7 linked regions of the Homo sapiens genome follow. The protein of the gene in region 3 interacts with the protein of the main gene of each other region in a pairwise test. Each region holds a gene or a part of one and is shown on either strand. Other genes may lie near its edges.

Region 1 (4,173 bases), on a different chromosome or scaffold from region 3:
TCCGACTTCCCCAGGCAGGGAGTGTGGGGTGGCGTCTGTCCTCCCCGGGCAGGGCGTGTGGGATGACGTCCGTCCTCCCCAGGCAGGGAGTGTGGGGCCGTGTTCATCCTCCCCAGGAGCTCTAAGGGCTCGGTGCTCCTGAGGCCGCCTCCAGCTTCAGTGCTCTGTGACTCCATTCCATGCAGAAGAACCCAGCACCTCCAGAATCCAGAACCTTCCATAGTCCCTGCTGCTGATCGCAGCCGTGGGTACTCTGCCTTTTGATGGGGTCTGACCAGCCACTTTGGGCTCTGGCTCAGAGCTTTTGGCTCCAACTAGGAAGGCTTGAGCCAGGCTAGCCTCAGAGCCCCAGGACATGGCCCACCCTCCCCGTCTCCCCCTCTCCTCCTCTCGGGCTCAGGGGTGCACGGCCTGGGGGTGGGACCTCAGTGCTGCTGAGCAGTGGCTGGACTTGGGGGTCTGGGCAGGACGGCCTTCACAGGCAGGCCTGGCACTGGCTTTCTAAGGCCAGGAGGCATCCAGGCCACTTTTTTAAAAAGTTTGTGTATTTTTGTATGTATTTATTTCATTTATTTTCTCATCCCCCACAGCCGGTATTATTTATTTAATTATTTATTTATTTTAAAAGATGGGGTCTCACTTTGCTGCCCTGGCTGGTCTTGAACACCTGGGTTCAGACGGCCCTCCTGCCTTGGCCTCCCAAAGTGCTGGGATCACAGGCATGAGCCACCGCGCCCGGCCTAAAATAGTTATTTCAGGTATAAATTCCCTGCCATGGAAGACAGGCCCAGCATGTGGTTGAGCTTTGAAGCATGCATCTACGGGACCCGTGCCCAGCGCCAGCAGCTCTTGACTGCTGTCAGGAGAGACGGCTTTCCTCAGGGACAAGACCACAGGCTGGTTTTTCACGCTTAGGAAGATCACAAGCGCTTCCAGGCTGGAACACAAGAAGCACATGCTGCGTGTGGCCTTGAGACCCCCATGGCCCAGGCTTCCGGACAGAGTGAGACAGGAGGGATCAGAGGCCAGGGTGGTGTCGATGAGAAAGGAGGCCTGAGGCTTTCAGGGTGTCCCTCGAGCAGGGACACTCCCCAGGGCTGGCAGTGACAGAGGATGGACCTTTGGGAGAGGTGCGGGGGTGGGGCCTGCTGAGCCCAGAGCATGTGGAGGCCCCGCTGGGAGTAGTTCTGTCCAGTAGGGTCACGGGTGAAGGCCCAGAGGAGGCGCTGGGGTCCGGGAGTCACCATCTGGGTGAAGAGGTCCTCGGGGTGAGGGGAAGTGTGAGGCGAAGGGAGGCTCCGAGCCCAGCATCTTGGGAGAGGCCTACTCGGGGCCCTCTCGGCCCGGAGGGGAAGGCAGGACCCCATTCTGTGGGAGGCGGGGCCCTGGGAGAATTCCCCCAGCCCCCAGGAAAGGGCGGGCAGGCAAGCCCACCGCCCGCTAAGGAGGCGGGTGTGGTTGCATGGGCCCCGGATTCCAGGGGACCTAGTAGAGGGCCTGTCACACAGAGCCACAGCACAGGACTTGGAAGTGGGAATTGGGGCCTGGGGAGAGCTACTGCCGTGGAGGGCGAGGCCAGCCCCCAGGCTCTGCTCTCACATCCCAAGTGCAGGACTTGTCCTGTTGGCACCAGGGCCCGCGTCGAGCGCCTGCTTTCATATCATGTTGGTGGCAGCGTGTGGTGACAGACACAGCCCACAGATGCCGAGTCCCCCCTAGGGAAGCGGGGCTAGGGGAGCACCACGTGGGCAGATCCTAGAGGGCTCCCCGAGTGGCTGGGCCACAGCACACTGCAGACTATTTATTCCTCCTGGCTGCTACCAGTAACTTTTTGTTAGAAGCTGCTGACACTGACGTTTCTCCTTTAGAAACTGTTTTTCCTCCCAATAAATATAAGATGTGTGCTGTCAGAAAGCCCTGCCACCCTGCACAGTCTGCAGGTGGCCTCTGTCCTGTGGTCCTTAGAGTTTTTGCCCTATGGCAGCAGGTGAGGCTGCAAATTTTGTTCTTGAAAATCTGTGCAGCTGGTCGCTAAAGACGGGCCAATCGGTAACCACTCTTACAGCCCAGCCCACCAGCTGCTTTCGACAGCTGCGTCTCAGGGGGACACAGCTTGATGGAGGACTCCAGCCGGCGTGTCCCTGGTAGGAAAGAGGGAGGTCCTGGGGGTGTCCCGTGAGTCGCCAGACCCGTTCCTAAGTGCTGGGAGACCACAGACCCCACGCTTGTTTACATTCTTGTTCTCCCCAGATCTCCAGTGGTCATCCAGGAAACAGGTGAAAGGAAACTACTGGAAAATGAGAGGCAAACCTGTCTCACCCACCGTGGCAACCCAGATGTGTTGGCTTTTGACTGTTTTTCACAGGAAACCATATCAAATAGAACCTCCCCTCTCTCCTAGTCATCTTGGCCAAGTATGGTCTGGACGGAAAGAAGGACGCTCGGCAGGTGACCAGCAACTCCCTCAGTGGCACCCAGGAAGACGGGCTGGATGACCCCAGGCTGGAAAAGCTGTGGCACAAGGTACTCTTCGATTGTTTGCATACCTTGCAGAATTGGTGCCGTTACGTTGAGTGTTAAGGCGGGGGCTGTGAGGGGCAGTCTCTGCTCTGCATGGGAGCCGGGGTTTGGGAAAGTCTCAGGAAGACGGTGGCTTCCTAAGGAAGCCATTCCACTGTCATTCTGTGAATCTTTTCAGCTTTCCTGTTTAGAAGATTCCTTGCTCTTTGAGTAAAGGAGCTCTGTTTGGCCTTTGGCCTGCAGCTGTCAGACCTTCAGCTCAGGTCACGTGTGGTTACGGGATGGTGACGTAGCATGGGCTGCGTTCTTTACTCCGTGTCGGATTTTTAATGTAGTGAGTGGTGCCGTGGACGTGCCTCTGTGATTAGAAAGGTGCCCTCGTGTGTGGGGCTGGGCTTTCACCCTGTGCCTGGGAAGGGTGCGGGGCCAGGCGCTGGGACCCAGCAGGGCCTGGTGGGCTGTGGCAGGGTGTTTACCTGCCGCAGCTCCCCCATTTCCAGCGGCTCCTGCTCCAGAACAGTTTCTCTGGATCACATTGATTTGGGGTCAACAGTTAGACTTCTTGTACTAGCCCAGTCTCAGCTCAATGTCCTTGGCCAGGAGAGATGGAGTCGGTAGAAGGGGGCAGAGAGGGAGAGAGGGCCCTGTGTGGCCTCCCTGGACGTGTGTGAGCCACGTCATCTCACAACCAGGAGGCAGGTGGGATGACAATGAGGGGCTGGCAGAGGTCCCCCTAGGAAGGTGGCCTTGCTGTCCTCACCACCTGCAGCCGGGAGAGCCAGGCAAGCCCGGGGTCACCGGGCTGCTGCCCTGTCCCCCTCCTTGGGATCTTCTGCTCCCCACCCCAGCCAGCTCGGTAGCTGTCCCCTGTTGAGCCTGGACACGTCCAAGAGAAGGGTGGTTGCCTGCCGGCAGCTCTTCTCCGGTTTGTTTTTTGTTTTCCTGCCCTTCGTGAGGCCAAGAACCTGGCCTGGCACTCACGTAGGCAAGGGCCTGCCTGGCCATGAGGAGTGGTTGGCTGAAGAGCGGCCCTGGCCACACGAGCCCGCGGCGGGTTCACTCCAGGCCTTGTTTCCCTCTTAGGCGAAGACCTCTGGGAAATTCTCCGGCGAAGAACTGGACAAGCTCTGGCGGGAGTTCCTGCATCACAAAGAGAAAGTTCACGAGTACAACGTCCTGCTGGAGACCCTGAGCAGGACCGAAGGTGCCCCCCGCCCCCACCCCCTCCTGCCCTCTGCCCCACCCCCTCCTGCCCCCCACCCCTCCTGCACCTGAGGCTCGTTGTGCTCAGTGGGCAGCCTCAGCTCCCCTCAGGAACACAGCAGGGGCAGGGAGGCGGCACCAGACGCCCTCCCAGGGTTCCACCGGACTTGTGAGTGGGGAGGTTGCTGTGCAGGCAGGCTCTGGGAGTCGCCTGCCTGCATTGGATGAACCAAGTCTCACCGGCGCCTGCCCCCACTATGGGCACAGCTGCTGCCTTTGTCAGACCTGAGCTTCGCTGATGGGTCCTTCATTCTGGACTCGTGACCCTCCCCAAATGTGTGACTTTCCCACCCCACAAAGCTGGAGTAAAATGGAGGGTGACCCAGCAGAGAGGGGGCAGGGCAGGGGTCCAGAGTCAGCCCCCAGGGGACCTGGTGCCCCAGCTGTCAC
Region 2 (4,173 bases), on a different chromosome or scaffold from region 3:
CCACCCCAGGCTGGGATCCGAAAGTCTCCTGGCGTTTCTTGCTGGTGAGATAGTTAGCTGCCTACATGATAGGACATCCTAGAGGCTAGGAATGCCTTCTTCATTGCTATTACGAGGGTCGTGACAAATGGAACAAAGCTTTATTTTCAGTTAAAATATAATCTCTCCTGGAGAAGAAGGATCCTGAGTAATGTAATCTTTAGAGGAAATGAGTTTATTAGATTGTTGTCGTAGAGTTTTGACTAAAGGGAAGGTAGAGTCTGAATCTAAAATCCACTAAAAGCAAAAGTAGGAGAAAATAAGCCCCAAAAGGAGTGAGCAGGACAGAGAATATGTTCATGAAGGCAGGAACCTTGAGGCTGTTGTCTTCCCTCTGAGTCCCTCCAGCTCAATAAATAGCCCACAGCTCAATAAATAGCTGACAAATGGATGAAAGGAACTGGAGGGCCTAAAAATGAGCTGTGCATTTTCTAACATTGCCAGGACCTGTCCTGGGAGCCAGTTCTCAAAATGGTGTTCTGCCATCACTCTCAGCTGTTGCATGGAAAGTAATCTTGAAAGTTGAGTGGGGCCAGGCGCATTGACTCACACCTATAATCCTTTGGGAGGCAGAGGCAAAAAGATTGCTTGAGCCCTGGAGTTTGAGACCAGCCTGGGCAACATGGTGAGACCCCATTTCTATAAATTTTAAAAATTAACCAGGGCATGTTGGTACACACCTGTAAGTCCCAGCTACACAGAAGGCTGAGGTGGGAGGAGTGCTTGAGCCCAGGATGTCGAGGCTGCAGTGAGCTGTGATTGCACCACTGCACTCCAGCTTGGGTGACAGAGCAAGACCCTGTCTCAAAAAAAAAAAAAAAGAAAAGAAAAGAAAGTTGAGTGGGATACTTAGGCTAGGTAAGACTTTTGCTCTTTGGGGTAAGTGAGCAAAAGAAAATGGATGGCACAGATAATAAATATAATGAGAAGGGATCTGAATGCTGATGGCGACTCCCCCTGACATACTAGGTGGGCTGGTGAATAATGACACCTCTAGTCAACATTTTCTTTGCTAGAAGAAAATAGTGGAAGAAAAAAGGAAAGTTCTTGAGGTAGAGTTCTCACTTGTATCTAGCCTTTTGCAGAGATGCCCAGGCTGACCTGCTTCCTCCCACCGTCATCAATTTATCACCTGGAGGTGACACATGAGAAAAAGAGACTATATGGTGCTTTTAAGAATTAAAGTCAATAGACATGCACTTATTGACCACTCAGCCTCTTATCATTACCTGGACCAACCAGAAGGGACTCTGCATTTCCTTTTCCCTACACAGCACACATCCAATATTGCACTGCATCCTTTGCAACTTATTTTTCCATGCAAGAATTTCTCCTAATTTTTAAACCCAATTTCGTTAATATGAGATGCAAGAAATGAGGCCAACTAGATAGATCTGACCGAAGTACCAAATCCCCAGTGATCCTTCATCATGGTTGCATCCGTCACCCCAGCATGTAAGTAATTCAGCAAGTATTTACTAAGCACAAAGTGAGTTTAGACCAGGATGGGAGCCCACGTTTTGCTAACATCTCTCCAGAATTGGAGTTTAAGGGTAATTTTCCAAGTTGTAGCTCTAGCAGAGGCTTCTATTGCAAGTCTATGAGTATTAATTTATGACTATGGTTATTCTAAGGATGGGATTTTAAGGCATAATCCTAATTTTAAATACTCTGACCTCTTGTCAAGCATGTATTAGCCCTTGTGTCCTACATTTGGGGGTTAGAAAATATGAATATTTACAATACTACAAATGAGAAAAAGGAGATTAAATTGTTTTTTTTTTAAAGGTTGAGATTAGGTTAAGGGCTATAGCAGCCAGTCAGATGGAGCCTTGAAACATTCCATGACTTTGCGTCATGACTAATTCTTACTGACATCCTCTCCAAGAGGCCGGTGTTTGAAATGCTCCAAGATAAGAACAATTCAGTTCTACTAATGAACCAAAGGATTTCTACTCCTTATGAGACTCTTAGGCCAGATTTCTGCACGGCCAGTTTATGTAACTTGGTACTTCAGGACAGACATTCCCTACACAAAAATAACTAAATTGCAGTGTATCTCCTGCTATCCAAAAATCCTTTAGCGTAAACCAGAACAAAACGTGCTGATAAAAGTCAAACAGTGAGTTTCACTTGTGGACTGAGACGAGAGAAAAGCTAAGCTATGGTTATAGGGTTTTTTGTTTTTCTAAGTAATACAAAGCTGTGCAAAAAAGATGTCTTTTTCTTTTTTATCAAAATGACAACTCTGCAAATACAGCAATCTTCTGGACAGCAAATACGTGTCAGTTAGAGAAACAAATGCCATTAATATTATCATGCTTCAGGATGTCATTGCAGATGAATAGCAAAAGGCCATGGAACAATATGAAATTTGAGTTTTTGTTTCTCAACCCAAGTCAAACTTTTATTGTAAGTTATGTGACCTTTGACATTGGAATAAAATACACTTTCTCACTTACTTATTGGGGAAAAAACTATACCATCCAAGCCCAGCCACAGATATTAAATATTAGTATGTTTATTTCTGGGGGTTTTTTTCCCCTGTGAATAGGTTTAAGCTAAGGAGACATTTTCTTATATGGTTATAGGAATAGTTGATATAAAATTTTAATATCTAGATTTTTAAAATGTGGCCGGGCATGGTGGCTCACGCCTGTAGTCCCAGCACTTTGGGAGGCCGAGGCAGGTGGATCACCTGAGGTCAGGAGTTTGAGACCAGCCTGGTCAACATGGTGAAACCCTGTCTCTACTAGAAATACAAAAAATTAGCCAGATGTGGTGGCACACGCCTGTGGTCCCAGCTACTGGGGAGGCTGAGGCAGGAGAATCACTTGAACCCAAGAGGTGGAGGTTGCAGTGAGCCAAGATCGCACCACTGCACTCCAGCCTGGGCAACAGAGTAAGACTCCGTCTCACAAATAATAATAATAATAATTTTTCCATGCTATCATCAAATAGCTAAGTTTTGTTTCTCTGAGTTTAGACTTGAATCTTAGGCTTAAAGGGCACGTTAGTTGTTGTTTAGATCAACTCCCAGCACCTGAATAAATGCCTTCCATGCAATCCTGAACACAATCTATTTTTCTCTATTTTTCTGTACAAAAATAGACAAAATGGTCCATTTTTTAGTACGAAGTGTTGCTCTTGACTAAGAGTATGTTAATGAAGCTCTTTGTCCTTTTTCAAAGCTTACATTCTCAAACCATAACCCTCATATTTGCTTAATGTTAGTGGAACAACTCAAAGGTATACTGTGCCTGTCACAATACAAGAAAGATGCTTTCAGAAACAAAAATGGTTCTTATCTAAATAAGAAGAAAGCTGTCTCCATTTCCATAAAAAGGATTGCATCCTTGCCAGAGAAGATAATAGAGTTTACATACACAGTCAAGAAGAGTGTGGGATAAAGTCATTTTTATTTTCACAAATAAAAAGTGTTTTGGTAACTGGAAGGCAGCCCATATAAAACAAGCTTTCATAGTCACCATTTCCTCAAGCTCTTCCCAGTGAGAGATGGGAAACACTTGAAACTGCTCACTGGAGAAAAAAGGATGATGAGGGTGACTTTACTGTTTATTTGAGGGGTGAGTATGAGGAGGAAGTGATTCTAAACTTCAAACGTGATGAAATATAATTTCTTCATCATGCCTTGATCAAATATAAGATCACTTCATAGAGTTTGTTTCTCTTATATGCCCACCATTTTTTCATATATATATGATTTGATTTTATATACACATATGTATACATATTATATATAAATATATATGTGTATACATATATGTGTGTATATCTATGAATCAAACATACTGTTTCTGTTGGAGATGGTTCAGAATTATAAAGATTATCTGAATCTTTATCTGTGAGCAGTCTCCAAGTAAGAAGTTGAAAGGTGAAGCCTTTGACTGCTGTCATGTCTGAGGTCATTCCAAGGACATGGGAGACTGCTGTCCATGGTTGGATCCTCTTAACATCAGCAGAGTTCTGTCAAGTTACTTAGCTTTCACTGGGGCAGCTCTAGCATTCCATTAATTCAAAATGTTGTTCCTTAATATAAGCCTCTAACATTTAAAATAAAAATTTTAAATGTATCCATTAAGGGAATAATTACATATTGAATTCCTAAGAAAT
Region 3 (4,173 bases):
TTTTGATTTTTCACTACTAAAAATGCTTTTAACAGACTCTGAACCAAATACAAACTTTGGAGGAGAAACCACTGCTTTTGGTGTTGTTTCAGATGTGCTAGACACTTCAACTTCTGAAGTTGCATCTGCTACATCATCACCCTGAATAACATCTGTCCTCTCTCTTGTGGTTTCTTCTAATACAGCTACAGCAATTTTGCCACATGGTGACTCTCTGGGAGTGCTTGACCGAGAAACATGAGGTGTTATCAAAGAATCTTTTTCCTGGGCTGTTTTTGCTTCATCAAAAATTTTCTTAAACGAGTCTGCAACATCCTGTAGTTTAAAACGAACAGCTAAATGCTCTACTTTTCTTTCTCCATCTGCAAAATCACATGCAGTCCACAACCATACTCTTTCTGTCCCTTTCATATTTTGCAAAGTCATGTCTGGAGTTATTCTGTGATTGGCACAAAGTTTTAATACTTGGTCCCTTCTCATCACTATACGAACTTGCTTATTATCATAATTCTGTAAAATCTTTATATCACCAATGCCCCTTTCTTTCCATTGACCAACATCTTTATCATATCTGTAGAGTTTTGCCCTGTGACTAAAAACAACTTGTTCATTTTCCTCACCACTGGATACTTCAACTAGATCAGGTAAAGGAACAACAGGTTCAAAGTACTGTCCATCTCTCTCTTCTTCTTGAGTAACATCAGATTCTTCATCAGTGCCAACTGAAGTCCCACTCTGATTCAACTTGGCAGGAGACTTAGATGGACTCAAAGCAGATTTAAAACTGAAGTTAAATCCTGTTGTTGACTCACCAAAACGGAAAAGATTTTTTCTCACAGGGCTACTTGCCAATGGAGAAGCATGTACTGAGCTACTACTGACACTATCATCCAAAGCATCTTCCCTTAAATCATAGTTATCCCATTCTAATGTGGGCCCAGTGTTTTCAGGATTGGGTTTTATTGTTGTGTCTGAGGCACCGGCCGCACCTGTACCTGAACCCTTATTTTCTTCCTCAGTGACTTTTGTTTGATCATTTGTCAAAAATGTTTTGAAATCTTTCAGTCCACTCTTCATTTCTTCAGCTCTCTGTATTAACTTGGCAGCTCTGCCAGTATCTACAAGTTTATGGGGAGTTTGAAGTGGTATGTCTAACAGAAGCCGCTGGCATTCCTCAAATTTCTGCTTGAATTCTTCAGCCAGCTCTGGTGTTTTAAATTTTGCTGCCAACTGCTCTAGTTTGGCATCACCATCAGAGAAATCACTGGCTAACCACATCCATGCTCTATCTGATCCAGAGAGAGGCTTCAGGTTCATCGTAGTCGTTATCCAATGATTAGCACACACTTTTAGTACTTGTTCTCTTCGCATCAGCATTCTTAGTTTGCCATTGACCTCGTTTTTGAGAATTTTTAAGTTCCCCAAGCCCCTTTCTTTCCACTGACTTACCTCAGCATCAAATCTAAATAGTTTTACCCGCTGTGAATACAGAACTTTTTCATCTTCTTCTCCTGTTACAAGTTCTACTTTTTCGGGCATTTGAACTACTGGTTCAAAATGGATGTCATCGCTGTCCTCAGTCTTATAGGCATCATCATCTTTCTCAAAGTCACCGGAAGTGTTTGCTTTATTGGCCATTTTACCGTATTGTGATGAGAATAATTTTTCTCCAGCACCTGAAAATCCCTTGAAATTGGGGTCTTTTTTGCCAAACTGAAATCCTTCTCCTGAAGTTGATTTTGCAAGATCTGCAAATGTAAAAGTGCTACTTGTTTGGCCAAAAATCACACCACGGCCATTCTTCTGGCCACTAATATCCTGAGCCTGGAAGCCAGTACCATTTTCAAGAGGCTTTTCACTTTTCTTTTCTTGATTTCCTGGTTCCGAAATGCCAAATTTAAATCCATCAGCAGACACAGGGATGGAAAATCCTTCTTTGGTTGACTTAAATTCTGTATTAGAAGAACCCTGAAACATAAATGAAGGTGAATTTTCTTGATCCACATGCCCAAATTTGAATCCTTGCTCTGTATTGCCAAACTTAGAAGCTTTTTCTGAGAAATTACTTTTAAATCCTGTTCCCACCTGACTTCCAGAAGAGTCATGCAACTTCATTTCTGAGCCCAGTGTGAAAGCTGAAGGAGCTTCTGCAATAGGTTTATGAGTTGGTTTAGAGGCATCACAAGCCACACATTTTAAGGAAGAACTCTCATTTTGTACACAGCAAACACTACAATCCCACTGTCCTTTCCTGATGAACATTCCTTCAAATCCACTCTTTGGAGCCTTGCTTATCTCCGAAGAGGCAGGTGTTGAAATTGCAGTTGTTTGATTTTGTTTACTTGGACACTGACAAGCAATACATTTGGTAGCACTGGCTTCATTTCTTACTAAGCACACACTGCAATCCCACTGTCCTTCCTTCTTAGTGAACATTCCCTCAAATCCGCTCTTTGGAGCCTTGCTTGTCTCTGAAGAGGCAGGTGTTGAAACTGCAGAAGTAGTTTGATTTTGTTTACCTGGATTCTGACAAGCAATACATTTGGTAGCACTGGCTTCATTTCTTACTAAGCACACACTGCAATCCCACTGTCCCTCCTTCTTAGTGAACATTCCCTCAAATCCGCTCTTTGGAGCCTTGCTTGTCTCTGAAGAGGCAGGTGTTGAAACTGCAGAAGTAGTTTGATTTTGTTTACCTGGATTCTGACAAGCAATACATTTGGTAGCACTGGCTTCATTTCTTACTAAGCACACACTGCAATCCCACTGTCCCTCCTTCTTAGTGAACATTCCCTCAAATCCGCTCTTTGGAGCCTTGCTTGTCTCTGAAGTACCAAACTTAAAAGAGGCAGGAGCTGGAACAGAAGTAGATGGACTTGGTTTATCCGGATTCTGACAAGCAACACATCTTGTAGCATTTGCTTCATTTCGCACTAAGCATGAACTGCAATCCCACTGTCCTTCCTTCTTAGCAAACATGTCTTCAAATCCACTTTTTAGAGTTTTACTTGTCTCTGAAGTACCAAACTTAAAAGAGGCAGGTGTTGGAATAGAAGTAGCAGGTAGACTCTGTTTTCTCGGATTCTGACAAGCAGCACATTTTGTAGAGCTCCCCTCATTTTGTACCAAACATGCACTGCAATCCCACTGTCCTTCCTTTGTAGAAAAAACAGATCTGAAATCACTGTTAATAGGTTTAGGAAGATCTCCCTGGCCAAATTTAAATGAAGCTTGATGAACAAATGAAGATCCACTTTTGTTAGCAGATTTTGTATTCTGACACGCAATGCACCTAGATACAGTAGGTTCATTTCTTACTAAACAAATACTACAATCCCAGTGACCTTCTTTCTTTGGAGTCACCAATGCAAATCGATCTTGAACATTCTCTGGGCTGGTTTTAGGAGTAAAAACAGTTTCAGCTAATGGTGGGCCAACGAGCTCTTTATTGCTTGGGTTTAGATTTTGGCATGATACACATTTCTTAGCAGTTGAAGCATTCTTTAATGAGCAGCTGTTACAATGCCACCAAGACCCTTCTTTCTTTGCAACCTGAAATTCAAAATTCAGGTTTCCAGCATCAGATTTGCAAATATCCTTGTTATCATGACTTGTGGGTTCTTTTACAATTCTGACAGCCTGATTTGACGCCATGGCTACATTTGTTCCTGGGGCTTTTAAAATGCTCTGGGCTTCTTCAAACTTGCATTTAAAAAGTGCTGCTTCCTCAGGAGTTTTGAACCTAATAGCAAGTTGTTCTGGTTTTGGCAACTCATCTGCATAATCAAGGGCATGCCATACAAAAGATCTGTCTGATCCAGCATTTGGTGTCAATTTCATATCTGGACTGATGTAATGATTTGCACAGATTTTCAATACTTGCTCTCGTCTCATTAGAAGGCGAATTTTACCAGATGTTTTATGCCTCAGTATTTTTACATTGCCAATCCCACGTTCTTTCCATTCTTTGGATTCTACATCGAAACGAAACAATTTCGCGCGGTTGCAAAAGAATTCTTCTTCATCTTCCTCACCAGTTTTTACTTCAATCTTATCAGGAAGAGGTACTACAGGCTCAAAGTGAGGACCGTCATCATCATCATCCCCATGGGCACTTCCTCCATCTGTCTCATGATTCTTGTTTGCTGTCTCTAAAGTGGGTGTTCCAAATAC
Region 4 (4,173 bases), on a different chromosome or scaffold from region 3:
ACGGGAAAAATGAGTCCTGCCTTGCCTATCTAACAGGATGGCTGTGGAGATCAAATGATATCTAATACTTGAGAAAGCATTTTGAAAACCGCAAAATGCTGAGAGAAGAAAGAGATTGTTAATCTTATTAATTACGAAGAGTGACACCTGATTCTGCAAGCACTTTGCTAACATGACTCTCTGTGCCTCTTTTCCTTTGGGAATTTGGGAATAATTCAAAGTTTGCAGAGCAAGGACAATCTTTTCTTCAAGTCCCTGGCATCTGGGTGTTGGAAAGCGGAGGTTTGCTCTGGGAGAAGGAGGAGGAAACAACAATATTTGCATTCTACTTGTGTTTCTCTTTAGGAACACAATCTTGGCTGAGATTCTATTGCCTCTAGCACACCGAGCCCTCAAACAACATTCAACGCATATTTATTGAGCACCTACTATGTGCCAAGCACTTTGATCCAAGATGATGGACTCACATGGCTTCTAGGTGTGGAGGTGGTGGTCTGGGGGTGGGGAAATTAAAGGAAGAAGGGACAGCAATGTGAAAGGAAAGCAGTGGCTATAGTCCTTGGAGTTTTGCAGACTTCACAGCTGACCTACCAGCTTCTTTCCATGGGGGTGGGGTGGGAGCTGGTCAGGGCTCACAGCACAATGGAACGAGCTGTGAGCACTGGAATGAATCAACATCCTCAGGCTGAGTTCCAGCTCTGTCTCTTAGCATCATAACCACTGGCAATCCATTCATTTTCCTGGCCATCAGCTTTCCCATATGTAAAATAGGTAGGCATGTTCCCATAGGTAAAATAGGGAGAATCAAATGAGATGATGTTTGTGAAGGGATCCAGCAAAGTGGTGCCTGAAGGTGCTCAATAATAAACTCATTAAAAAACAAAACAAAACAAAAAAGCGTTCTCTTCTTCCCATTCTCATGAGGACAAACTACACACTGGCCCAAAGCGTGGGCTCTGAGATCAGACACCTGGGTTCCAGTCCCAGCTCTGCAGTTTACAAGCTGTGTGACCTTAGGCAGCAGACATTACCTTTCTAAGGCTCAGCTTCTTCATCTGTGAAAAGGTGATAACAGAATCCACCCATAGGGTGGTTGTGAGAATTAACCCAAATACTGCACGTGATGCTCCTAGTACATGGCAAACACCCTGCAAAGGTGAGCTGCTGCTAATTACATCTCTCTGAGCCTTTAAAAACAACAAAACTCCAAGTGCGCAGGCTGGAAACTAAGATTCAGGCTACTTGGTTAGTGACTGGCTGCCTAGGCACCATTCACCCTTTGCTCCTTGTCCCAAGACTTCCAGAGGAAAAACATACAAACGAGGAGTCATCCCTGTCCCTTCAGTCTCCCTCCCCACACCTTGCAGAAGGTGTTCCAGCCCCTTTCCTGCCAGGTTCCTCTCTTTTTTTTTTTTTTTTTTTTTTTTTTGAGACGGAGTCTTGCTCTGTCGTTAGGCTTGAGTGCAGTGGTGCAATCTTGGCTCACTGCAACCTCCGCCTCCCAGGTTCAAGCGATTCTCCTGCCTCAGCCTCCTGAGTAGCTGGGATTACAGGCACGTGCCACCATGCCCGGCTAATTTTTTTTGTATTTTTAGTAGAGACGGGGTTTCACCATGTTGATCAGGCTGGTCTCAAACTCCTGACCTCGTGATCTGCCCGGCTCAGCCTCCCAAAGTGCTGGGATTACAGGCATGAGCCACCGTGCCCAGGCCAATTTTTTTTTTTTTTTAATAGAGACGAGGTCTCACTATGTGGCCCGGGTTTTTCTTGAACTCCTGGCCTCAAGCAATCCTCCTGCCTTGGTCTCCCAAAGTGCTGGGATTATAGGTGTAGGCCACCATGCCCAGCCTCTATGCACAATTCTAACACACTCAGATGTCTGTTTTCCCAGAGATTTGGAGGGACTGCTCTTTGAGCCCAGCATAAATGATCACTACATGATAAACCACTTCACACTCATTAGGATGGCTATTATAAAACCAATCCAAACCTAATCAACAAAAAGCAGAAAATAACAACTGTTGGTGAAGATGTAGAGAAACAGGAACTCTTGCACCCTGTTGGTGAGAATATAAAATGGTGCAGCTGCTGAGGAAAGTGTTATGGGGGGTTATTCAAAAAAGTAAAAATAGAATTACCTTTTGATCCAGAAATTCCACCTCTGGGTATATACACAAAATAACTGAAAGCAGAGACTCAGAGAGCATTCACCTTTTGCTCCTGGTTTGCACACCCATGTTCACAGCAGTATTATTTACAATAGCCAAAAGGTGGAAGCAACCCAGGGGTCCATCAATGGAGGAATGAATAAGCAAAATGTGGTATATACATACAATGGAATATTACTCAGCCTTAAAAAGGAAGGACATTCTGACACATGCTACACCATGGAACCTTGACAACATTATGCTAAGTGAAACAAGCCAGCCACAAAAGGAGAAATACTACATGATTCCACTCATATGAGGTATCCAGAGTAGTCAAACTCATAAAAGAGAAAGCAGAATATCAGTTGCCAGTGGTTGGGGGGATGAAGAAATGGATAGTGCTTAATGGGTAAAAGAGTTTCAGTTGGGGAAAATGAAAAAGTTCTGGAGATGGGTACTGGGATGGTTGTACAACAATAAATACAAAGAATGTACTCATGCTACAAAACTATAGACTGAAAAATTTGCTGTTACATACAAGTAAATTTTATGTCATATCTAGGTAACCACTTAAAAAAAAAGAAAAAGGAAAGAAAAAAAAGAGAAGTGACTACTGTCTACCAGGCAGAAGACACAGCAATGATTGTAGGTGGAAACATGAACCCCCAAAGCCCAACAGCTGGGAACCACGTAGTTTGGGGCCCACTGCCCTAGAGTCTCACAAGCCCCGTGGCCTCACACTACTATAAGCACAGTAACTGACCGGGTAGGACTGGCTCTTCCCACTCAGAGCCTTGAACAGGATTTAAGAGCCTTCCTGCAGTGCCAGTGTTGCTACTTGGAACCTTGAGGCAGGGCACTCCCGGAGTGGGCTCTCCCCCAGCAATTTCCCTCTGCCCACCACTAGGTCCCTCCCCCACCCCAGGTCTCTTCTTTGGGAGGTAACACTTTTGAGAGAAAGAACCTTTTGTGGTCCCACTCTCACCAAGCAGGCGCTCTGTACACACCGGTATGAACTCAACAACCCCTAGTCCCAAACCAGAGGTTCTTTCTGAGCTGTATATTAATATTTTGCTCAGAAGCATATCATTCGTTTCAGAAAGATTCCCATCCAAAAATAGTTTTTAAACATTTCTTTTATAGTTTTGCTCCTTAAAAAAGAGTAAGCTTCAATGATCTAGTGGGAAAAATCACTGGCTATGGCTTTTGTGTGTAAAAATCCTGGTAGCTTGGAATAATAGAAACTTTCTAAGATCACAAAATCTCTTTTCATCCAGGGTCTCACTTTAATCTTACAACCTCTCTGAAAGGTGATCAGGGTGGCAGTCACCTCATGGCACAAATGGGGAAACTGAGGCTCAAAGAGATCAAGAGGCTTGTCCAAAGTCACACAAACAACTAGGAAGGAGCAGAGACCCCAGGCTTCATTTTCCACCAATGCCAGATGAAACTCTGTGTTGGGACCTCATATCTGAGCACACTGTGTAGCCATGAAAGTAATTTTTAAACCACCATTAGCTTATTTTATCTCCATAACATCTCTGTGAAGGAAACTGGAAATATTATCTTTTTAAAACGGGGGATCAACTGAGGAAGAAACAAATGACCTGCCCAAGATTACCACTCAAGAAAGTGGCAGAGACTAGACCTCCTCTCCTTTGAATACACTTGACCTCAACCACTTCCCTATAATATCTTGACCTCCACACACTCACAACTTAAAGGAGCACATGCAGTTTTTATGTAGGTTGCACCATGTTTCTGTGAACTAGGCAGGGGACAGACATACCTTTGTTCTCTTTCTAATGGCTGGGTAAGAAAAAAGAGGTTATAGAAATCTTTAGGTTCCTTTTCAGCTCTAAAATTCTATGATTCTAAAAATTCTCCAGCAAGTTGATGGGTAAGAGATGCCTGGAATCCACATCACCTAACTTCCTCCCTTGTAGTCTATTAGGCCACCCTATCCCTGCCCTGCGAGTTAAGGACTACAAACATCACGTGTGCCTGGAAGAGGGGGGTCCACTCT
Region 5 (4,173 bases), on a different chromosome or scaffold from region 3:
CACAGGGTAACGGTGGGGTCTTCCCATTGCTCTCAGGACAAAGAGCTCACTGTTTGTAGTGGCCCACAGGGTCCCACACTCTTTGACCCCCATTACTTCTCTGCTCCAGCCAAACAGGCTACCTCACTGTCCTTCAAACAGACCAGACAGGCACCCACCTCAGGACGCTGGCACTGGCTGTTCCCTCTTCCATAGTGCCCTTCCCTTTTTTTTTTTTTTTTGAGACAGAATCTCGCTTTGTCTCCCAGGCTGGAGTGCAGTGGCGTGATCTTGGCTCACTGTAACCTCCACCTCCCGGGTTTAAGCAATTATCCTGCCTCAGCTTCCCAAGTGGTTGGGATTAGAGGCGCCTGCCACCATGCCTGGCTAGTTTTTGTATTTTTAGTAGAGATGGGGTTTCACCATGTTGGCCAGGCTGGTCTCAAACTCCTGACCTCAGGTGATCTGCCCGCCTCGGCCTCCCAAAGTGCTGGGATTACAGGTGTGAGCCACCGTGTCTGGCCCAGCCCTTCATAATTTTATATTATTTATGTGACTCTGGGCAAATGTCAGTCTCCCCCAACATACAGGAAATTTCTTGTTCGAATCACCCAGGTCATTGAAAGCCTCTGAAAATGTTTGTTGTAAGAATAAATGGAGTGAATAAATGAATGAGAGCACGAAACAGTGCTGTAAATAAGCAAATGGAGTGAAGGAATGAACTGAGTAAATGGATGGATTGGTAGGTGGATAAATGAGTGGAATGAGTGACATGAATGAGTGGAGTTAGTGAATACAGTATACAGAGATGGAGACATGGTATGCCTTAAGGAGGCTGAAGCGAATAACCTACAGCCCAGACCAGAAGCTGGCAAACTGTTCCTATAAAGGACCAGATGGTAAATAATTCAGGCTTTTTGGGCCCTGTAGTCTCTGGGCCTGGAACGCGAGCCACGCACATTTATTTACATTTTGTCTGCAGTAGCTGTAAACAAAACATAAACAAATATGCTTGGCCCGTGTTCCAATAAAACTTTATTGAGAGAAACAGGTGGTGGGTGGATTTGACCCATGGGTGATGGTTTGCCAACCCCTGGTCTAAATGAGCTCTAGGTTGCAAGTGTCCCTGTTCACAAAGAGCAGTTGGAAAATGGCTGGACAGGAAGACCCTGGGGAGCCGTGCTGGTCTAGGCTGCCCCTGCTCCCAACGTTTCTTTTTCCATGGGACTGGCATTTGTCCTTGGACAGAGCAAGAGAGACTTAATGGTCCTCTCCTCAAGCTGCCGAGACAAGCTGTTACCTGGCAGTCAGGGGACAAAGAAAAAGGCAAGAGGCCAGGAGCGGTGGCTCATGCCTGTAATCCCAGCACTTTGGGAGGCTGAGGCAGGCGGATCACCTGAGGTCAGCAAAACGCCGTCTCTACTAAAAATACAAAATTTAGCTGGGCATGGTGGTGCACGCCTGTAATCCTAGCTACTCAGGAGGCTGAGACAGGAGAATCGCTTGAACTTGGGAGGCGGTTGCAGTGAGCCAAGATCGCACCACTGCACTCCAGCCTGGTCTCAGGAAAGAAAGAAAAAAAAAGAAAGAAAGAAGGAAAAAGGCAGGAAGCCAAAGGCAAGATGTGATTGATTGTCTGAGACTTGGGCTCTGGTCAGAGGAGCTAACAGGAAGTGGGTGAAAAGTGAGCAAGTCCAGTCTGGGCGTGGTGGCTCACACCTGTAATCCCAGCACTTTGGGAGGCCGAGGCGGGAGAATCACTTGAGCCTAGGAGTTCAAGACCAGCCTGGACAACATAGCAAGACCCCATCTCTACAAATTATAAAATTAGCTGGCCACAGTGGTTCATGCCTGTGGTCCCAGCTACTCGGGAGGATGAGGTAGGAGGATCACTTGAACCCAGGAGGTCAAAGTTGCAGTGAGCTGTGATCGTGCCACTGCACTCCAGCCTGGGTGATACAGCAAGACCCTGTCTCAAAAAAAAAAAAAATCAAAAATCAATTAAAAAAATTTTTTAAGTGACTAAATCCCTTGAGACAGAGAACTCGGGGAAGAAGAACTGGCGTGATGGGGAGTGGGCTTCATTGTATGGAAGATTCCCCACAAGGCAACACACACGCAGATCTGGGTCCCTGCCCTGGCACCTTCGGGTGGCCTCTGACAGCACAGTTGAGGGCTGCCGAGTACCCAGCCACGACCACGCGGTCTATGAGAGGTGTCAGGAACTTGGGAGCCATCCGGAAGTCATGCTCCTTATACTCGAACGGTTTGAAGGTGATTCCTGGGGAGAGAGGATGCACCCGTAAGGCGACTGATCTAGATTCTCCCCTGACACCAACCAGGGAACAAACCGCAATCACCTCTCTCCCATGACTAGGTGCCGTCAACCCCAGTGGGGAGGGGAGGGCAGGAGTCCAGGTGGGACCTGGGCGAGAGGGTGGACGGGGTGGGCCTGGGCTGTGGGGCAGGATGGCTGTACCTGTCTTGAGGATGCGGGCCGTGTTCTTGGAGACACCAGGTGAGTCACTGAGCCCACAGATGTTCTCGGTGTAAACTCGGAAATAGTATTCATTGCCCACGATAAGGTCGGACACAGTACAGCTAGTGTGCCTGTTACGTTCATAGACGTTGAACCACTCCTAGTGTGGGGACAGGGAGGGACCAGGCGGGTCGGGGCCACAGGATCACACGATTACACACAAGACACAGACGAAAGAAGGGGTGAGAAAAGCACATCCAGTGTTTAAAAAAATGTCACTCATGGCGCACTACTCACAGTGGCCAACAGGTGGAACCAACCCAGCGCCCATCAGCGCAGGGATGGACAAACAAAACAGTCGGCCCAGACAAAGGAACATCATTCAACGCTAAGAAGGGGTCAGGCACCGTGGCTCATGCCTGTAATCCCAGCTCTTTGGGAGGCCGAGGTGGGAGGCTCGCTTGAGCCTGGGAGTTTGAGACCAGAGTGGGCAACCCGGCGAGACCCTTGTCTGTTAAAAAAATCAAAAAATTAGCCAGGTCTGGTGGCCAGCACCTGTAGTCCCAGCTACTTGGGAGGCTGAGGGAGGAGGATTGCCTGAACCTGCGGGTTGGAGGCTGCAGTGAGCCATGATCATGCCACTGCATTCCAGCTTGGGTGACAGAGTAAGACCCTGTCTCAAAAAAAAAAAAAAAATTTAAAAGAAATAAAGGCCAGGTGCAGTGGCTCATGCCTGTAATCCCAACACTTTGGGAGGCCAAGGTGGGAGGATGACTTGGGTCCAGGAGTTCGAGACCAGCCTGGACAACATACTGAGACCCTGTCTCTACAAAAATTAGCGGGATGTGGTGGCACGTGCCTGTATTCCCAGCTACATGGGAGGCTGAGATGGGGGGGAATCACCTGAGCTCAGAGGCAGAGAAGGCAGTGAGCCAAGATTGCACCACTGCACTCCAGCCTGGGTGACAGAGTAAGACCCTGTCTCAAAAAAAAGAATTCTAAAAACAGGATTTCTGCATGGACACACCCGGCACCCTGCAGCATGGATGAACTTCAAAGACGTTGTGCTGAGCTAACAAAGTCAGACACAAGGGTCACATAGCTAGGATTCCATGTGTATGAAATGTCCAGAGTAGGTAAATCCAGGGAGACAGAAAGCAAATCGGTGGCTGCCAGGGGAGACCAGGGGGTAGCGCTATTGGGTACAGGGCTTCCTCTGGGGGATGAAAATGGACTGGGTAGAGGCGGTGGCTGCACAACCCTGCAGATGTCCTAAGTGCTGCTGAATTGTTCGCTTTAAAACGATGAATGACTAATTCCGTTATGTGACGTTTACCTCAGTGAAAAAAGAAAATGAAAACCCATCACGTGCCAAGTCTCAGCTAAAAGGCTTCCCTCCTGGCCCCAGCCCGTCCTCTAGCCTCTGGGCCCCTCCCTGCCCTTCCAGCTGTGAACGGGGGACATCTGCACCTGCTCTGCCCACCTCACCGGCTCTTCCCCATCTCCCCCTCTGCTCTCTCACCATGGTTTTTTTGTCTGCTTTCTGGACGAAATACCCCATGATCTCACTGTTCCCATCATCTTTGGGGGCCTGCCACTCCACCAGCGCGTTCGTGCCCCACACCTCCTTCACCATCACGTTTATGGGGGGCCCAGCCTTTTCTGGAAATGGGGAAGTGTGACAAGTCAGTCCAGGTTTTGGGATGTCCAGCCGC
Region 6 (4,173 bases), on a different chromosome or scaffold from region 3:
CTAGCAGAGGCGGACCAGGATGTAAGAAAGTGGTTAACGTGTATGCAGGTGGGGTGGGGCGCTGGGGACTGCGCTTCTCTCTTCCCTCTTTCCAATCCGCCTCAGAGCGTAAGGCCCGGCCCACCTCGTAGAGCACAAGCTGCGTGCGCAGGTCGACGTCAGTGCCCGCAGTGCCCAGGTGGCGCTGGACCAGCGCTTCCATGCCCTGCTGCTCCAGTGCATCCGTCACATCGTAGAAGGAGTCCTGGTCCGGGAGCGCCGCCAGCGTCTGGAGGGCGGGGATAAGAAGGCAAGGCTGAGGTTGGTGGGGAGGTCAGGAGCCTGAGCATCCCAGAGCTGGCACCCAGTCCTTGGCCACACCTTGTTGATGAGGGTGACCGTGTACACCAACAACTCAGGGTCAGCGCCATTCTTCTCCTCCAGGATGGACACCAGATTGGCCCAGGGAGGAGCACCTGCCACACAGAAAGTGGAGCAGTCATGGGGGAACAGGTAGGAGAGAGGGCTCTGAGCGGTGGGGGGAGAAAGGGACAGTCTCTGACCGGTGGTGCTGGCCACAGAGTTCACTGCACGGATGAACAGCGGTGCGTTGTTTTCGGAGTATTCTACAAACACCAACAGCAGCTTCAGGGCTGTCTTCACCACCAAGCGGGACTGAGGAGAGAGGTCAGTACATATGAGTGGGGCTTAGGCCAGACCTGTGCCAGCTGTTGCTGGGGAAGGGGAAGGGCTGCTGGGGCTGGACCCAGAGAGAATCTAGGCAGAATGACCCTGGCCCCAGGCCCAGGCACTGAAGTGCCTTATAGGCTTACAGAGGCCTCAGACTCACTCCCTTCCAGCTCACTTTGCAGAACAGGAAACTGAGGCCCAGAGAGAAGCAACAGGCAAAGGGTATAAGGCTGAGTGGAGAGCCACTTACCAGGCTGGCACACAATGTGTACAGCCACTGAATAGTGTCACTGTGGGCCACCACCCCCAGCATTCCATCCACAAAGAGCATCAGCTGGCCGAGCGCTGGGGAAACAGGGATGGGCAGAGTCAGCGAGGGTCGCTGGAGCAGAGGTCATGGGAGAGGGGCGGGGCTGACCTCTAAGGATGTAGCTCTGGTAGTTGTGGTCGGCAGCAGCACCCACACGGATCAGGCAGCTCAGCCCCTCTGAATGCACAAATTCAGGCACCAGGTCTTTGTCCTCCTAGAGGCACCATGGGGGAGTTTAGGGAAGCTTGGGCTACACACTTACCCCCAGCCCACTGCGGGGCCTCACCTGGAAGATCTGCTTCAGTGAGAAGAGGGAGCGGCGGAGCTCAGGACCACTGGAGCTATACAGCTTTTCTGCAAAAGGTAGGGTATAAAACCCTTGATGGACACAGACTCACTGTCTTCCTCTGCTTGGATACAACCACAACTCTCCACCAAAGAATAGTCTAATATATATGTTTTGGTCTGAGAGACAGGGTCTCACTCTGTCACTCAGGCTGGAGTGTGGAGTGCAGTGGCACAGTCATAGCTCACTGCAACCTCAAACTCCTAGCCTCAAGCAATTCTCCCACCTTGACCTCTCAAAGCACTGGCATTGGAGGCATGAGCTACCACGCCTGGTCTATTCTAACATTCTTGAATCCCCCTCCACTCCCACCATGGCCCTGGAAGAAGAGGTCAGGATAGGGAGAGGAAGGAGCACATACAGCTAAACCTACTTTGCTCACTGTTCAGCACAGGCCTGAAGGTGAGCCAACTGGGCTATGGGGAGGAGGTGCTGCTGGACATGGATGCTCTCACACACTCACCCAAGATAGCGTTGACCCTCACAGAGAGCTGGGTCCGAAGGATCAGCGTGGGCTTCCGCCCTTTGCTGGAATCAAGGATCTCTGTTAGCAGCTCCCAGCCTATCCCTCAGCATTCCTCCCCACAAGCCAAGGGAGCCAAAGACCTCCCCATGCCAGCCCCAGCCCAGCTTGTTCCTCCCAGCTGCTCCTCCAAGAACCCAAGGGTTGGTCGGACAAGAGGGTTGGTGCAAACACATGTATCTCAGGTATGTGGGAGAGCCCCTAACTCCCACCTTGGGCAGCAGGTAACACTGGCCAGGCTTTAGAATTCCCCTGGCACACTTCCCTGGGGCAGGAGGTGACCCATGGCTCAGGCTAGTGATCGAGTGTCTCAGCTGCTGACATTTGAGCTAGCCCCTGGCAAGGGTGGGGGTAACCTTGCCTCCCTGGCCCCATCAGTTCTGACCTGATCTCTTCATAGAAGCCCTCCAGCATCTCCCGCTGCTCTTCCAGGGACAGCTCGGTGTCCAGGTAGTATCCGGAGGGAGACACTTGCAGAGCACAATCCTCCAACTGGGGGCAAAGGGAACAGCTGTGAGACTGAGGAAGAGGTGGCAGGCGAATGTATGAAGACCCCTGACCTCTTACCTACCACTTGAAGGGTGGCAGAGAGACACAGGGTCTGCACTACAGCTGTGCATTCCTTCAGCAGTTGCTTCTCAAGCACCTACTATGTGCAAAGCCCATCTGTGTCAGGCACCAGGCTTTCTTGGCCTTTGTTTGTACCATCTCCTCTCCTGGCTGATACCTACCTATTCTTTAGGTTGCTATGCAACCCACTCCACCCTGTGTGTATGCTCCCTTTCGAGACCTTCCACACAGCATTCTAATATCCGAGCCACTGGTCTCCTCTAGCTGCGTTCTCTGCGTTCAGGCACTCCGTCTGTCTTGCTCCCTGCTGTATCTATAGAGCCTGGCATAGCACCTGACACACAGTAAGCACTCACTAGGACTTGTTGAGCTAATAAACACAGATGAGGAAGGGGAATGGAGAGAAGATGGGAGGAAGTTCCTGCCTTCGAGGAAGCTCACAGCCCTGTGGGGTGATAAGCTATAGTCACAAAGCATTAAGCCCCAGAAAGAAAGTGTTAAGATGGCTGGGAGGTGCAAACCCACCCGGGAGAGTGTGTCTGTGTGTGTGTGTGTCTCAGTGAGTAAGAGGGTGAAGACAGGGTCTGATCCATAGACTTCCCAGTCCCACCAGATTTCAGGGTCTTTGGCCTCTCCCAAAGTGGGCTACAGTTACAATGGTCCTAGCTGGACCTCAGAGACACCCAAGGGGCCTATTAAAAAACTAACTTTAGGCCAGGCGTGGTGGCTCACGCCTGTAATCTCAGCACTTTGGGAGGCTGAGGAGGGTGGATCGCCTAAGGTCAGGAGTTCTAGACCAGCCTGGCCAACGTGGTGAAACCCCGTCTCTACAAAAATGCAAAAATTAGCCAGGCATGATGGCGGGTGCCTGTAATCCCAGCTACTGCTGGGGAGGCTGAGGCAGGAGAATTGCTTGAATCCAGGAGGCAGACATTGCAGTGAGCCGAGATCATGTCATTGCACTCTAGCCTGGGAGACAGAGTGAGACTCTGTCTCAAAAAACAAAACAAAACAAAACACTTAAGAGTCTGACTCAGTCTACAGTAGGACCCCAAAGCCTGCCTTTGTAACAAGCAGGCACATGCTCCATCCACGTGTCCATGTTTCCCTCCCCGGGCTCTCCTCCCCCGCCACAAGGCATGGCACTTAGCCCCTTGAGAAGTGCCTGTAGAGAAGCCTGAGGGAGGTGACTCCTGTGAGTCGGAGGGTGGCACTCTACCTCTCCCAGACACCTCCCTCCATTGCACAGTGCAGATATGCAGGTTCAGCAAAGTCTCCTTGACTTAAGTGGCTCTGGCCCTTGAGATGCCTTGGCCCAGGGAGAGCCCACCTCTGGAGAGGCAGGGTGTCTTCTGGTCTCCATCTTACTGGGCATGTCAATTCCAACATTTGTCCTGCTGTTTGGTCAGCCCTGCCCTCTTCTGGACCCTGCCCAAGGGCTTCCAACTGGCCTTGGTCCCCTGGAGAAAAAGGGAGTCCAGCTCCTGCCTCAACCCCTACCTCTGTTTAGCAACCCTTGCGCCTGCCTCAGAGCCTGACCTGGCTCCTTCCCCACAGTTTAGCCTGTGGGGCCCTTGGATGACCCCCCCCCCCGCCCACCCCCGCCTGGGACCTGGGACATAGGACAAACACTCCAGCCTGTTCTCTGTCCCACTTCCTGCCTGGCTGCCTGCCCTCCCCAGGGTGCCTTGGGCAGGCCTGGCCACTTTCCCCTCCCTGGGAGCAGAGTCATCTTCTCCAGGGCCTACTGGGAAC
Region 7 (4,173 bases), on a different chromosome or scaffold from region 3:
TCCAAAGAGCCAGGAATTTCTACCTGTTTTGTTCCCTGACATATTCCAACTGACTAGAACAGAGACCAATACATAATAAGTATTCAATAAATATTGAATTAATTTTTTAAATGTCCAACTCCTTGGTGGCCACTTGCCACAACACAAAATACATGAAGTTAAATACTCAGCACTCCCCAGGTTATCACACAGGTAATATTAGTACCCTAAGAACTGAAAGGTCCACTCCCAGGACCCAAGAGAATTAAAAATACATGTTCGCACAGAAACTTACATACAAATGCTCATAGCAGCATTACTCACAATAAGCAAAAAAGCAGAAATAACCCACATGTCCTCCAAATAAGTAGACTGACAAAATGTCGTATCTTCATAAGATGGACTATTATTCAGCAATAAAAAAGAGCATAGTATTAACACTTGCTACTCCTTTTTTTTTTTTTTTTTTTTTTTTTTGAGACGGAGTCTTGATCTGACACCTAGGCTGGAGTGCAGTGGCGCCATCGCAGCTCACTGCAACCTTTGCCTCCCAGGTTCAAGCAATTCTCTGCCTCAGCCTCCTGAGTAGCTGGGATTACAGGCGCCCACCACCACACCCGGCTAATTTTTTTATTTAGTACAGATGGGGTTTCACCATCTTGGCCAGGCTGGTCTTGAACTCCTGACATCGTGATCCACCCACATCGGCTTCCCAAAGTGCTGGGATTACAGGCGTGAGCCATCGCGCCTGGTCAACACTTGCTACTTCTTTCACTTATGGGAAGTAAAAGAAATCAGACACAAAAAGGCCACATATGTATTACAGGATTCCGTTAACAGAAAATGCCCAGAATACGCAAATCCTTATAGACAGAAAGTAAATGCTAAGCTCAGTGTCTGAATCTTGTAATCCCAGCACTTTGGGGGCCAATGCAAGAGGATCACTTGAGCTCAGGAGTTCCAGACCAGGCTAGGGAACATAGTGAGACTTCACTACTACAAAAAATTCCAAAATTTGCTGGGCATGGTGGCGCACACCTGTAATCCCATCTACTTGGGAGCTGGAGGCAGGAAGATCGCTTGAACCCAGGAGGTCGATGCTGCAGTGAGCCATGGTCGAGCCACTGCACTCCAGCCTGGGTGACAGAATCAAAACTCTTCTCAAAAAAAAAATTTAGATTAGTTACTGGAGGGATAAAAGAAAGGGAGAACAGTGAATGACTGCTAATGGATAAGAAGTTTCTTGTTGGGAATTTGGAAATGTTCTGGAGTTAAATAGCAGTGACAGATAGCTAGGGATAAGTAACGTGCCTGAAGTCTCAGCTACTCAGGAAGTTGAGGGGGAAAGATCACTTGACCACAAGAGTTCAAGGCCAGCCTAGGTAACACAGCAAGACCTCATCTCTAAAAAAACAAACAAAAGAAATTAACAAAAAAGTTTTCAAAAGATAGTAGTGATGGATGCACAAACTTGTGAAAATACTAGAAATTTATGAACACTTTAAAAAGGTGAATTTGGTGAGGCGCGGTGGCTCATGCCTGTAATCCCAACACTTTGGTAGGCCAAGATGGGAGGATCATTTGAGCCCAGGAGTTCAAGACCAGCCTGGGCAACACAGTGAGACCTCCACAGAAAATTTAAAAGTTAGCTGGGCATGGTGCCGTGCACCTCTGGTCCCAGCTACCTGGGAGGTTGAAGCAGGATCACATGAGCCCACTGAAGATCAAGGCTGCAGTGAGCTGTGATTGCGCCACTACACTCCTGCCTGGGCAACAGACTGTGGCCATGTCTCAAAAAAAATAAAATAAAAGGGTGAATTTTATGGTATGTGAATTATATCTCATTTTTTTTAATTAAAAAAACAAGTGAAAGGATTGCTCAACTCAATGTTCACTGCTCACTGAGAAGGCTAAGATTTGACAATGCCTTCATGGTCATACTCAGTTCCAAGAATCCCATCTACCAACTAATCACAGCAAAAAGACTTTTTTAAAAAAAGGGAGGACGGCCAGGTGCAGTGGCTCACACTTTGGGAGGCCAAGGCGGGCGGATCACTTAAGGTCAGGAGTTCAGAACCATCCTGGCCAACATGGTGAAACCCCATTGCTACTAAAAACACAAAAAAAAAGGCCGGGCGAGGTGACTCACACCTGTAATCCCAGCACTCTGGGAGGCCGAGGCAGGTGGATAACAAGGTCAGGAGTTTGAGACCAGCCTGGCCAACATGGTGAAACCCCGTCTCTACTAAAAATACAAAAATTAGCCAGACATGGTGGCACATGCCTGTAGTCCCAGCTACTTGGGAGGCTGAGGCAGGAGAATCGCTTGAACCTGGGAGGCAGAGGTTGCAGTGAGCCGAGATCGTGCCATTGCACTCCAACCTGGGTAACGAGCGAAACTCCGTCTAAAAAAAAAAAAACAAAAAATACAAAAAAAATTAGCCAGGCGTGGTGGCAGGTGCCTGTAATCCCAGCTACAGGGGAGTCTGGGGCAAGAGAATTACTTAAACTCGGGAGACAGAGGCTGCAGTGAGCCGAGATCACATCACTGCACTCCAGCCTAGGCAACAGAGAGAGGCTCCGTCTCAAAAGAAAAGGAGGGAGGGCACTTGTGGGAGGACATACATGTGCAAGTTGCAGTAAGTAGAATTTTCCCTTCACACCCAATCCATTGAAATCCAATCATCCCCATCTTCAAATATATTCCCAATACTACTATTTCTCCTCACCACCATCTCTCCCCAGGACTAGCTTGACAGCCTTCTGACTGATCTCCCTACTTCCACTCTTGTGTTCCCATGATCTGTTCGAACCCATGATGTGTTCACTACCCAGCAGTCAAACATTTTTGAAAATGTTTATCACATCACTTCACTCAACACCCTTCAAAGGGTTCCTAACACATTCAGATTTTACTCAAGTCCTTACCATGTCCTATAAGGCCCTACAATTGTACTGGCCCTTTGTGACCCTCTCTGACCTCCTCTCCTACCACTCCAGCCCTGATGGCCTTAATGTTCCTTAAATGTATCACACTCAAACATGCCAAGCACACTCCATCTCAGGGTATTTGCACTTGTTTTCTGCAGGGAATGCTCCTCCCCCAGAAACCTGAATGGCTCACTCTATCACTTGTTTCACAGCACACTTAAATGTCATCTCGAAAAGGCCCTCCATTATCACCTAATCTAAAGTAACCCACCCTCTGTCACTCTAACCTCTTATTCTGATTCCGTATCATTTCTCTTCAAAGCACTTAGCATTATTTTTTTTCTTAACGTGTGTCCACCATAGTAGAAAGTAAACTCCACGAGGGTAAGAACTCTTGTTCTATTCACTGCTGCATCCTCAAAACCCAGAACAATGTCCGGTACAAGGAAAGTACACAATGTGTTCAATGACTGAATTCACTGGCTGACTTGGCAAAAACATTCTTCAGTGACATAGGTACTCACCTAGTATTTTTTTTAATTACAATAAACAAAGATTTAGCAATTTGGACAGAAAACATGTTAGTATTTTACAAGATTACCTATTCATCTAAAGGACCACAAATTTATAGCACAAAATTTGCCATGTTATGGATCTTAAATCCCTTCAAATATCATAGATATGAGGTTAACATTCACACCAGATTAACCAAGCCTCTGACTTCATCCTACCTACTTACTCTTACATCTTAACTAGCAGGTCCAATGACAGCATGCTTCAAATGACAGTAACATCTATCTAATTTCCTAAGAAAAAAACCTCCATCTTCTTCCTACCCCAGGATGAGTTACTAGGTCCTGAATTCTACTTCTTTTAAGACAGACTCTTGCTCTGTCGCCCAGGCTGGAGTGCAGTGGCGTGATCTCGGCTCACTGCAAGCTCCGCCTCCCAGGTTCGCACCATTCTCCTGCCTCAGCGTCCTACAGGCGCCCGCTACCAAGCCTGGCTAATTTCTATTTTTTGTATTTTTTTAGTAGAGACGGGGTTTCACTGTGTTAGCCAGGATGGTCTCAATCTCCTGACCTCATGATCCACCCACCTCAGCCTCCCAAAGTGCTGGGATTACAGGTGTGAGCCACTGTGCCCGGCCCTGAATTCTACTTCAAAAAGGCTCAGATCTATCCTCTCTGCTCCACTTCCAATGCATTAGTTCAGGCCCTTATTCATTTTCCACTTGGACTTCTTACCTGGAATTTCCATCCT

Evidence for each region.
Region 1: the proteins of RANBP2 (region 3) and LRPAP1 interact in a two-hybrid assay, tested with the Homo sapiens proteins (one large-scale study listed by BioGRID and IntAct).
Region 2: the proteins of RANBP2 (region 3) and PDLIM3 interact in binary tests that used the Homo sapiens proteins (3 or more experiments, as listed by UniProt).
Region 4: the proteins of RANBP2 (region 3) and UBTD1 interact in a two-hybrid assay, tested with the Homo sapiens proteins (one study listed by BioGRID).
Region 5: the proteins of RANBP2 (region 3) and MYBPC2 interact in a two-hybrid assay, tested with the Homo sapiens proteins (one large-scale study listed by BioGRID and IntAct).
Region 6: the proteins of RANBP2 (region 3) and FHOD1 interact in a two-hybrid assay, tested with the Homo sapiens proteins (one large-scale study listed by BioGRID and IntAct).
Region 7: the proteins of RANBP2 (region 3) and ARID4B interact in a two-hybrid assay, tested with the Homo sapiens proteins (one large-scale study listed by BioGRID and IntAct).

Annotation. Positions count from the first base shown.
Region 1 is NC_000004.12:3,518,422-3,522,594, reverse strand, and holds part of LRPAP1 (alpha-2-macroglobulin receptor-associated protein precursor), read left to right. Parts: intron 1-2,401; coding exon 2,402-2,523; intron 2,524-3,603; coding exon 3,604-3,724; intron 3,725-4,173. UniProt on the Homo sapiens protein: Molecular chaperone for LDL receptor-related proteins that may regulate their ligand binding activity along the secretory pathway.
Region 2 is NC_000004.12:185,518,087-185,522,259, reverse strand, and holds part of PDLIM3 (PDZ and LIM domain protein 3), read left to right. Parts: intron 1-4,173. UniProt on the Homo sapiens protein: May play a role in the organization of actin filament arrays within muscle cells.
Region 3 is NC_000002.12:108,763,960-108,768,132, reverse strand, and holds part of RANBP2 (E3 SUMO-protein ligase RanBP2), read right to left. Parts: coding exon 1-4,173. UniProt on the Homo sapiens protein: E3 SUMO-protein ligase which facilitates SUMO1 and SUMO2 conjugation by UBE2I. Involved in transport factor (Ran-GTP, karyopherin)-mediated protein import via the F-G repeat-containing domain which acts as a docking site for substrates.
Region 4 is NC_000010.11:97,505,031-97,509,203, reverse strand, and holds part of UBTD1 (ubiquitin domain-containing protein 1), read right to left. Parts: intron 1-4,173. UniProt on the Homo sapiens protein: May be involved in the regulation of cellular senescence through a positive feedback loop with TP53. Is a TP53 downstream target gene that increases the stability of TP53 protein by promoting the ubiquitination and degradation of MDM2.
Region 5 is NC_000019.10:50,459,987-50,464,159, reverse strand, and holds part of MYBPC2 (myosin-binding protein C, fast-type), read right to left. Parts: intron 4,121-4,173; coding exon 3,981-4,120; intron 2,619-3,980; coding exon 2,459-2,618; intron 2,261-2,458; coding exon 2,124-2,260; intron 1-2,123. UniProt on the Homo sapiens protein: Thick filament-associated protein located in the crossbridge region of vertebrate striated muscle a bands. In vitro it binds MHC, F-actin and native thin filaments, and modifies the activity of actin-activated myosin ATPase.
Region 6 is NC_000016.10:67,237,115-67,241,287, forward strand, and holds part of FHOD1 (FH1/FH2 domain-containing protein 1), read right to left. Parts: intron 2,341-4,173; coding exon 2,234-2,340; intron 1,854-2,233; coding exon 1,789-1,853; intron 1,772-1,788; exon of another isoform or gene 1,699-1,771; intron 1,334-1,698; coding exon 1,266-1,333; intron 1,194-1,265; coding exon 1,088-1,193; intron 1,015-1,087; coding exon 920-1,014; intron 655-919; coding exon 543-654; intron 456-542; coding exon 361-455; intron 269-360; coding exon 125-268; intron 1-124. UniProt on the Homo sapiens protein: Required for the assembly of F-actin structures, such as stress fibers. Depends on the Rho-ROCK cascade for its activity. Contributes to the coordination of microtubules with actin fibers and plays a role in cell elongation.
Region 7 is NC_000001.11:235,317,739-235,321,911, forward strand, and holds part of ARID4B (AT-rich interactive domain-containing protein 4B), read right to left. Parts: intron 1-4,173. UniProt on the Homo sapiens protein: Acts as a transcriptional repressor. May function in the assembly and/or enzymatic activity of the Sin3A corepressor complex or in mediating interactions between the complex and other regulatory complexes.